Linked DNA regions of Homo sapiens: all the other regions are reported to be linked to region 2. The links are microRNA targets in miRTarBase. Many come from high-throughput screens and were not tested one by one. Region 2 holds a microRNA gene; each other region holds the end of a gene's coding sequence.

Evidence for each region. Region 2 holds the annotated microRNA hsa-miR-629-3p (GUUCUCCCAACGUAAGCCCAGC, at 1,783-1,804, shown strand). A microRNA usually pairs through its seed, bases 2 to 8, with sites in the 3' UTR of a target mRNA and lowers its output. Matches are read on the target gene's strand: a 7mer-m8 pairs with bases 2 to 8, a 7mer-A1 pairs with bases 2 to 7 and ends in A, and an 8mer does both.
Region 1: miRTarBase lists PPP3R1 as a target of hsa-miR-629-3p. Seed matches in the 3' UTR shown: 7mer-A1 at 2,640-2,646 and 7mer-A1 at 2,191-2,197.
Region 3: the mRNA of WNK2 is a reported target of hsa-miR-629-3p. The part of its 3' UTR that is shown has no 7-base or 8-base seed match.

The regions. Positions count from the first base shown.
Region 1 is chr2:68,178,074-68,181,326 of GRCh38, forward strand. It overlaps PPP3R1 (protein phosphatase 3 regulatory subunit B, alpha), which reads right to left. Exons shown (of 6, transcript NM_000945.4): 6 at 784-2,937. The coding sequence ends at 2,890. Among named protein-coding and RNA genes, the nearest start is that of PNO1, 22 kb to the left of the region's middle.
Region 2 is chr15:70,077,938-70,081,190 of GRCh38, reverse strand. MIR629 (microRNA 629) reads left to right here and starts at 1,723; the gene lies at 1,723-1,819. The region is part of intron 4 of TLE3 (TLE family member 3, transcriptional corepressor); the gene reads left to right. RefSeq lists enhancers at 1,659-2,265, 2,266-2,872.
Region 3 is chr9:93,320,000-93,323,252 of GRCh38, forward strand. WNK2 (WNK lysine deficient protein kinase 2) reads left to right here. Exons shown (of 30, transcript NM_006648.4): 30 at 368-570. The coding sequence ends at 393. Among named protein-coding and RNA genes, the nearest start is that of FAM120A, 130 kb to the right of the region's middle.

The sequences.
Region 1 (3,253 bases), not on the chromosome of region 2:
GGGATGTCATTTGCCAGAGCATCTCAAGTGCCTATTACAGTGATGGACATGTAGTAGGGACTGTAAAGTTGAATAAATGAAAGCAAAGTTACCAAGTAAATGTAATCTCAAGAAATGCCAATTTTACCTTTTAAAAATACTGAATAGCATTTATTATAAAATCACAACCTGCATAAACAGGGTATCACATTAATTTATTAATTATTTATTGGGTAAACACTAAGAGCTAGGTAATACTCTGGACAACTGGGCTGGGGCTATCAGTGAACAAGAGACAAATCACTACCCTTTTGGAGCTTTCATTTTATTCAGTAGTCAGGGAATACAAAATACGTAAGTAAACTGTGTCAGAAAAGAATAAATGCCATTGTAGAAGGAAAAATATAGAGGAGGAAAGAAGAGCCAGGCGTATCTGTATTTTTTAATAGGGTAGCCAGGACAGTTCCTTTTGAGCTAGGCTGTAACTGAACAAACACCTGAAGGCATTAGCTATGAGATACTGGGAAAGGAAAGGGGCAAAAAGGGACTGATAGCGCAAGGGCCTAAGAGACACAAACCCAAGACTCCAGGTACCACCGGAGGCTAACATGGCTGGAGTAGAGAGAGGGGTAGCAGTAAGGGAAGTCATGGCAGGAGGTGATGGGAGAGTACTACAGGAATTTGTAGGTTTTTATAGAGATTAAATGTCACTTTACCAGACTGTTTTTAAGAATTTAAAAGCCTGAGAGGAAAAAAAATTCTCATAGCTATGGAAACCATCAAAGACCACTGAATACATTCAAGCAAGTTTCAAATATTTTATTTTCTTATTCATACAGTATGAAGTTTTCTAAAGATCCCACAACATGACGTATCATGCAGAAGAAAAACTAAACATTCAACATAAACCATCCCCTCCCTTACCCACCCCCACACACAAACTAAAAAAAAAAAAAAAAAAAAAGAAAAAGAAAAAACCCTCATTCCCCGGTAAGGAAATAATGTTTACACTATTTTTCTGTAACGCCAGCCAAGATATGCACAAGCAAGAGAAATAGAAAGCATTTGCTAAAATATTTGTAACAAATACTTATGTACAAAAAATTCACAAAAGGCTAGTTCCCCCTTGAAGCAGAGCACATGGCAGTTGACACTGGAACAGTTCAAACCACTGGCTGGGATTATAAGCCATGCCACTGATCCAGAGGAAGAAAGTTACATGTAGTGGAGATTTTCAGTCTGAACATTAACATTTCCAAAGTTTGGCAACATTATCTTTTAAAATTATGCAAATTATGTAAACAAGAGGTACATTTTAAATTGATCTACATGCAAAACTCCATGTCATGCAAGGACACCAAGCACCGGGATTTTTCTCTCACAGACAGAGCCCATGATGTGCAGCACTCAGTTGAAGGAACAGCGATGGCAGGCAGGTGTGCTCAATTTCAGATTGATTCACCTTGATTCAACCTGCCCTTTTCCACTGATTTTAAAACCAGTTTTTATAGAGAAACTATAAAGGGAAAGACTACTGTCATACAAAGCTAACCAAAATGTTTTTCTTCCAGCTAACAGTACCTTTGCAGAAATGGGAAGGGATAAGATCAAACAGTAGAACATGATACACTACTTTTATATCACACAAATTTATTAAGTTATCCATTACCAATTATATGGGCAAATCAAGAAAAAAAAACCAGTATGCATGCTCTATCCCTCGTGGTAAAGAAATTTAAGTGGCATAAATTTGGATACAATTTTGCTCTTCTGTGGCATATAGATTAGCAAGATTTCTCACACTTAAACCACAAATATATGTGGGTGTTTAGATACATACATGCATATTAAATATCACCAGTTTTTTAGATTAGCTGCAAGTCTTTTGAAACAAGGGAATTCATGATTCAAACACAAGTTTAATGACAAATTATTTACCCATGTAATCAAACAAATGGATATCCCTTATAAGTAGTTACATGATCACTTCAGGTATTCTTCAGTAAGTGATACATACAATCAATCATGATTGCCTCAGACAGCTTCTGGCCTTTATGTATAAAATCACAACTAGCACTTAACGTTACTGAGGGACATTTAATAAATGCAATGGCTCCTAGTTACAAAGTAGCAGAATGAAGCAGCTATAAGCCCTGTGCAGTTACTATATGAACACAAGAACTAGCTCTTGGCAGTAGCAATGAACTAGACTTTCTCCTCAAGCAGAGGTGTATTAAAAGCTGCTCAGCAATGAGAAGTAGTCCCTGGATATATTCATAAGTATAAATAAAGTTACAGACTCCTTTGTTACAAAAATGTAATTAAGGTAAATAATAGGACGTTAACAAATGCTTTGTCAATCTCTCAAAGGAGAAAGCACAGGAAAAGGAAAATAGCTGGCCTAACACCCGGCTCAAATTGTACAGTCTTCTATCTATATATAAAACTGTGTGAAATAAAAGTAAGGATGTTTTATGTTCTGCTTGGCACTTTTGTACTCTATTGTTTTGTTTCTGAATCAAGTATATTAAATTAAAGCCAACCTACTACATATATAGAAAGCTACATATATCTATATATAAATATTTACATATGTATATATAGATACTTTCTTGTTATAAAAGATGAAGAAAAATAAATTAAAAAGCCAACCCCTTCCCTTTCTCCACCACATTGATATGCTCTTTTCATGTTGCTGTCCTTCAGACTTTAAAGTGCTACACTGAGTTATTGAGAGAATTACAGTTCAATAACACTTAGTTGGCTTCATGAGGCTCATGTTGGAAAATGTGGCTTCACAGAGAAAAATACTTCCATTTAAATACACAGAGAGCATTGCTGGACGTCTTGAGCAGATCTTCAGAGATGGAGAAGAAAGCAAAAGTGTTGGGTGGTACTCTCTGATAAGAGTCACACATCTACCACCATCTTTTTGTGGATATCTAGGCCACCTACAACCTGCAACAGACAGGAACAAATCAAGCTTCACAGTGTCTGAGAAACTCCTCATTCGTGGTCTAACTACTTCATCAAATTTTAAAAAATATTACTAGGGGGCTGGGCGTGGTGGCTCACACCTGTAATCCCAGCACTTTGGAAGGCCAAGGCAGGTGGATCACAAGGTCAGGAGATCGAGACCATCCTGGCTAACACACGGTGAAACCTTGTCTCTACTAAAAAAATACAAAAACTTAGCCGGGTGTGGTGGCGTGTGCCTCTAGTCCCAGCTACTGGGCAGGCTGATGCAGGAGAATCGCTTGAACCCGGGAGTTGG
Region 2 (3,253 bases):
AACGAAATTAATGCCTAGAGAAGGGAAGTGATTTGCCCAAAGCCACACAACTAAATGGAGGCAGAATTGGAGGTAGAAGCCAGCTCATCTCTGCGTGGCGTTGGAGCATAACACACTCTTTGAAGGGGCAGTTTTCTCTTCTCCTTGCCTTTATTTGGCTGAGGTTAAAAGGAATTGTGCATTCAGAGTCCACAGGTACACACGACAGGGCAGTTTAAAACTAACTAGCAGACAGACTCTCTGGTGGAAGTAGCTCTCGACGGTGTGTTGGACACAGTCACCTAAATTAAAAATAAGGGCAAGGACTGGCTGGGTGCTGCAAGCCCAGGAGCAGGAGGTTGCTGGGGGGTACAGATCAAGAGCAGGCTCCGTTTCCCTTAATTTAGTGTCTTGGGTCAAGGGCCAAGGATAGTCTGAAGTAGCAGCAAACGTGAATACTAGACTGTGGTTAGAGAAATAGACTTTTAGAATGCTCAAGTACCCTCGGTTTACAGCAAGATGTTCAGAGGTCCTGCTTTAATGAGGAGATGATCATGCAAATGGGAGCTACTAAGGCGCATGGAACAGATTGCTGTTTGGGAAATTACACTTGCCCCCCACTATCTTGTTTTCTGTCATTTATTTGCCTAACAATCTTGACAGAGATGCAGGGCAGATGTTACTCCCAGCGCCCAGTTGGTAGTGCAGATTCCGGATGTAGCAGGACCTCTGTCCCCATTTCTCTGAACTGCTTCTCTGTCTGTATCTAGTAGATTAGTTCCTTCTGAGGAACAATGTTTTTCCACCAACAAAGCGCCTGCTTTGAACCATACTTGAAAAGAAACTTTCAAAGGCGGCACCAGCCTCCCTGAACACCTTTTCCAAAGTGCTTTCCAAAGGGAGCCATCTTCCCACCTCCCACCACCTCTCAGATTCGCTTCTGAAGACCTGGCTCAAAAGCAGTGGCTTTGTGGGACCGAGATGGAGGGAAGGATGGAGGTCGGCCTCTGGAAACTACAGCCGCCTTATCGATAACGGATTGCGCCAAGTTGCCAAAAGGAGTTTTCCAACATACGATCGAGTTCCAGTTTGTGATTTGTGACCTGTCCCAATTGTTGAAGTCACACTTGATTTTTTTTTTTTTTTTTCCTTTTTTGGAACTGATGTTTAGAGCTTGTTTGAGTTGGATCCAATGCTGTTTTAACAGCTGTTCTAATCAGAAGTGCTGTCAATTATTAACCTTAATGGTGGTTTTTCTTTCAAAAATATTTCTCTAAGCTCTCTTGAAATGTCAAAATTTGGCTTCTTGGTAGGAAGTCATTTAGTGAAATCACTTAATGGCTGGGCATCAGTTTCCCCATCTGAAAAGTGGAGATGTTGACAAGCGCCTTCTCCGCGGGGTTATTGTGGATGCACACATGGCGAGTTGGGTGGGTGATATCAGCGGTCATTACTGTTGTTAGGAGGGCTTCTGTTAAGCCAGCTTTCCATTTCCAGGAACTTCCCCTCCCCCAAGCGCCACCCTCCAAAAAATAAACATTTCTTTAAAATGTTGAGCGAACAGCTTTCCTGTTCATGCTTTGACTCTGCAGAGTGCACGCAGCCCATTCTCAGGGTTGGGCAGCCTTTGTAGAGATGGGGGAGGCCCAATCCCTGCTTCCACTTTGTGGGGAGACCCCAAGAGGGTACTAGCAGATGATGGCACAGTGACAGCTGGGAGGGATGGGATGTGCTTGCTTCATGTCCCTTTCCCAGGGGAGGGGCTGGGTTTACGTTGGGAGAACTTTTACGGTGAACCAGGAGGTTCTCCCAACGTAAGCCCAGCCCCTCCCCTCTGCCTGCCTCAACCCTACACAGTCCTGTCTGGTGACGTGCCAAAGTCCTTCCTGCCTTGCAGAGAGGCCTCTCTTCGTCGAACATGGGCCTCAGGAAAGACAGCCTGAATGCCACTACCCCAGGCTTGTGGAAGGTTCTGCATCTGTGTGGCATTGTTGCGATAGCCCTCAGTTGATGCTTGTTTGTGGTGTTGGGAGGCAGGAACTACTTTAGGAGGGTGGAGGGGTGAGAATGAGAGAGGACTTGCCCTGAGCCACCCAGCTGTGGTCACCTGATGGCCCGGATGGCTACATAAATCCTGGGAGATCCGTTGTCCTCATAACCAGAGTGAGCTGGGCTCCAGACCAGCCCTATGGGAAGATCCTGTCTGTGGGAAGCCTTTGGCCACGTGTTTGCTGAAGGGTGTGGGGAAGGGCAAGGTCAGCTACGTTTCTTTTTTGTCAACTCCCGAGACCCTGACCCTTGGCCTGTTTACCAGTGGAAGGAGGCCATAGCCAGAACCCTTTTATAATCACCCTGCCTCCCTGCTCTCCCAGAGACTGTGAGAGTTAATAGTTGCTGAGGAGGCCAGAATGACTGGGGATGTTCTGACCTTGCCCCTGCCTTCCTGGCTGTGGGGAGGAGTAGTGGCCAGGGACCCATCTAGGTGGCTTGCGATTGGCCTGGCTTGGAGGTGCCACCCCACCCCGTTGGTGAAGGGCTTGGGCCACTGGCCACCAAGTGTATGTCAACACTCCATCCACCACGGCCCCTCCCACAGATGCTGCCCATGCTGGGGCAGGCCCAGATCCACAGCAAGGGGTCACTGCAATATGAAGTCTCAATAAATGCAGAGATGCCAGTGATACTATTCTTTGGGCCAAACATTTACGGAGCAGCTACTGTGTGCCAGACACTGCTCTATTGTTGTTTAAGATAACAGGCCTTGGACCTGTGAGCTTCCTAAACAGTAAGGTTGGTTTTTTTTGTTTATTTTTGTTTGCTTTTTGTTTTTTACATATCTTTCTATTCTTATTTGGTGCATGAACTCAAAGGTGAGAGAACTTGTTACTCTGCCGGTTTGGAGTGAGCTGCAGCCTATGCTTGTTTCTAGAACTCCTGCCCTATCCAACCCGGACTTTTTTGCTTCATTCCCCATTCCTACTATCAGTTGATTTAGGCGAGGAAAAAATAAGCAGAGTGAGGAAGGACCCTGTTTGGGAGAGCTCTTCCCACTTAACTAGATTAACAATTTATATAATGATTATTTAGTAATCCTCCTGGGTTCCTTAGAGTATGAATGACGGGTGTCTAGTGGGTGGAGAGGCCAGGGATGCTTTTAAAAGCCCTGCAGTGCACAGAACGGGCTCCACACAGCAGTGAATTATCTGACCTCAGATGTCAATAGCATGGTGTTTGAGAAACCCTGATGTATGGTGTCCTGGCTAGAGTGCCCCAC
Region 3 (3,253 bases), not on the chromosome of region 2:
AGCTGCAGTGCCAGCCTTCGAGCTTCTGCATGGAGGGAGGAGGAACACTCATCCCAGAGCCTCCTGTTTTGGGTGTTGGAGGGCAGCTCACTCCCCAGATGCTCCAGACGGTACAGGAGCAGAGCGTCTGTTTGGGTTTCTGGCAGCCGTTCAGTGTGCTGACTGGTCACACAAAGAAGGGTGGTCCAGGTGACAGAGGCCGCCAGGGCTGTGCTGAGGACAAGACCATCTACACAGGGCGTGGGTCATGGCAGAGCTGGCGCAGCCTTCCCGTCGGCAGCTCCTGGGAGGGTGTCAGGGCCTGGCCCTTGGCGAGTGGCCAGCACTGCGGTGGGCCCACAGTCAGCTGCGCGGTTTTGTTTTCCAGATCCTGAGAGTGAGAAGCCTGACTGACCCCGCCTAGACGCCAGGCCCACTTCACGCCGTCTAAGTGGAGAAGTGACGGACCCTCAGGGCCAGCTGCTCCTCCTGTCCAGTTCACGCTGTTTTGTAACCACTTTCTAAGCATTTTTTATTCACAATTGGAAACACAAATGTAATGCAAGAATAAAAAATATTTTGGGGCAGAAAGGACTTTGGTTTTTCAAACTATTTCCTCTCTGGTGGCCCTCGGCCAGCCAGGTGACTGGGATGTGACAGGGGTGGGGGGACATTCCCAGGACCCTGGCATGCTCAGGATAGCCCTGTTCTCTGCAGGGCCCTGGAGGTGGCGGCCCCGGGGAGGCTGATCTCCAAGTCCCCCCGATGCCAGCTGGCACGGACTCGGGGTCCTGGGTGCCTCCTGGCCTTTGCTCACGGAGCTCCATGAGGCAGACCCTTCCCTCTGGTCTTTGGAGGCTTGAAGTCACCCACCACCCCCACACCCACCTCCCAGGCACCCTCCTTCCAGAATTCACCTGCACTGGCAGGGAAAACACCAGTGGCCTGGGGCCAGAAACCTCTGGCTGTGGGGTGGCAGGTCTGAGACCACTGGCTCCTTGGAGGGCTGCATACCCCCCACTCGTGGGAGGGGTCCTAAGTGTGAGAAACGAGGAATGTTGACATGGCCTCACCAAGGAAACGTGCCGTGGTAAGGTCCCCACACCCTAGCCTGGCCAGCAGGCACAGGAGCCTTATGCTGGGTCCAGAGGTCTAGGGAGAATTTGGGGTCCCATGCATCACAATGAAAAAGCATTGCATCTCTATTTTCATTAATGTCTAACTGCAATTTAGCATTTCCTCCACTAACAGCACCTGGACTTCATCACCACTAGACACCACAGATATTGCTGTGCCATGCCATTTACATCCATGACACAGTGCCCTTCCCTGAGATGTAAAACTGTCCAGCCGGCTGATGGAGCAGCGCTGCCTGCCTATCTCAAACATGAGTCTTCAGGGCACAGTGACGCTGCTTCCCCACGGGAGTGTCGGAGATGCCATCCCGCTGTGTGCGGGTGACCTCGGAGTCCTGGCTCTTCTCCGTGTGATCAGCAGGGTAGGCCTCCTCCAAGCCTCAGCTGGGAGCAGGGATGGCACGGTGCTAGGAACATGGCTTCCCTTGGTCTTAGTTTGTGTTCTCTTCTGTTGGTGGCTCATGTGACTGGTTTTCTGTGGACCATAGTAATGCAGTTTGCCTTTTCTTTTTTTTTTTTTTTTCTTCTTTTTTTAATGAGACCGAGTCTTGCTCTGTTGCCCAGGCTGGAGTGCAGTGATGCAAACTCAGCTCACTGCAACCTCCGCCTCCTGGGTTCAAGTGATTCTTCTGCCTCAGCCTCCTGAGTAGCTGGGATTACACGTGTGCGCCGCCATCACACCTGGCTAATTTTTGTATTTTTAGTAGAGATGGAGTTTCAGCATGTTGGCTAGGCTGGTCTCAAACTCCTGACCTTGTGATCCGCCCGCCTTGGCCTCCCAAAGTGTTAGGATTACAGGCCTGAGCCACCGTGCCCGGCCGCAGTTTGCCTTTCAAACTGCACATTTATTTTAATCATTTTCTTTAAGTGAATAATAGTATAAATGTCAATGGTAAAATTTGGTGGTAGTATGGTAGTAAACAGTAGTACAATGGTCAATGAAATGGTAATGGTCAAGCCAGCACCCTCTGAGGAGATTCTGCACAGTGCACTTCCAGGACTCTGGGGCCCCGAATCCCAGCTTCATCTGCTGCTCAGAACCACCTAGCAGCCCTCCAGGGCCGCTAGGAAAAGGCCCCAAGCCTCAGCCGCAGAATCCAAGGCTCTTGGTGTTCAGCCTCACCCACTAGACGCGTCCGTGCTTCAGGCTTCACTGCTGCTGCACAGCGTGCCAGCTGGGCCCGGATATTCTTTTTTTTCTTTTTCTTTTTTTTTTTTTTTTGAGATGGAGTCTCGCTCTGTCGCCCAGGCTGGAGTGCAGTGGCGCGATCTCGGCTCACTGCAAGCTCCGCCTCCCGGGTTCCCATCATTCTCCTGCCTCGGCCTTCTGAGTAGCTGGGACTACAGGCAGCCCTGCCACCAGGCTGGCTAATTTTTTGTATTTTTAGTAGAGACGGGGTTTCACCGTGTTAGCCAGGATGGTCTCCATCTCCTGACCTCGTGATCCACCTGTCTCGGCCTCCCAAAGTGCTGGGATTACAGGCATGAGTCACCGCGCCCAGCTCCGGATTCATTCTTGACCCTCCCAGTCCCGGGTTCTCTCCTCCTCTGGGTTCTATCACACAGTCTGGGTGGACAGCTCACGAGAGCCCCAGAGACCTCAGCCCCTCATGGAGAGTTCTCATGGGTGCATATTATTTGTTATGCTTGACTTCCTGAAAGCAGGGACTTAAAATTGTTTCTGATAGCCCTTCACCTTCCAAAACAGTCACTGAGTGAAGCTGGCGCGCAATGAATTATGCTGATGAAGGCAGACTCCTTTGGGCAGATGAAGCTTCCAGTGGGTGCTTATTGGCTCTGATCACAGCATTTCTGGGATGGAAAGGACCCTGCCAGGCCTCTCCTAGGACAGCAAAGGCAGCATCACCTGGGGCCAGTCCAAGCTCCTCCTGCAGGGTCAAGGCAGCCAAGCCACAGCCTCTGCTCTCCAGTGTTGTTTTGTTTTTAGCTGACCCCAGCATCCAACCAGACTTCCAGTGTCCAGGGTGATATTGCGCCTCATCTCCAGGCTGAACAGCTTCAATTCTCTGAAAAGTGCTTATTACTAAAGGGCTGGTAAGGCTAGGCGCAGTGACCTATGCCTGTAATCCCGGTGCTTTGGGAGGCTGAGGCAGGAGGATCACTTGAGGCCAAGAGGT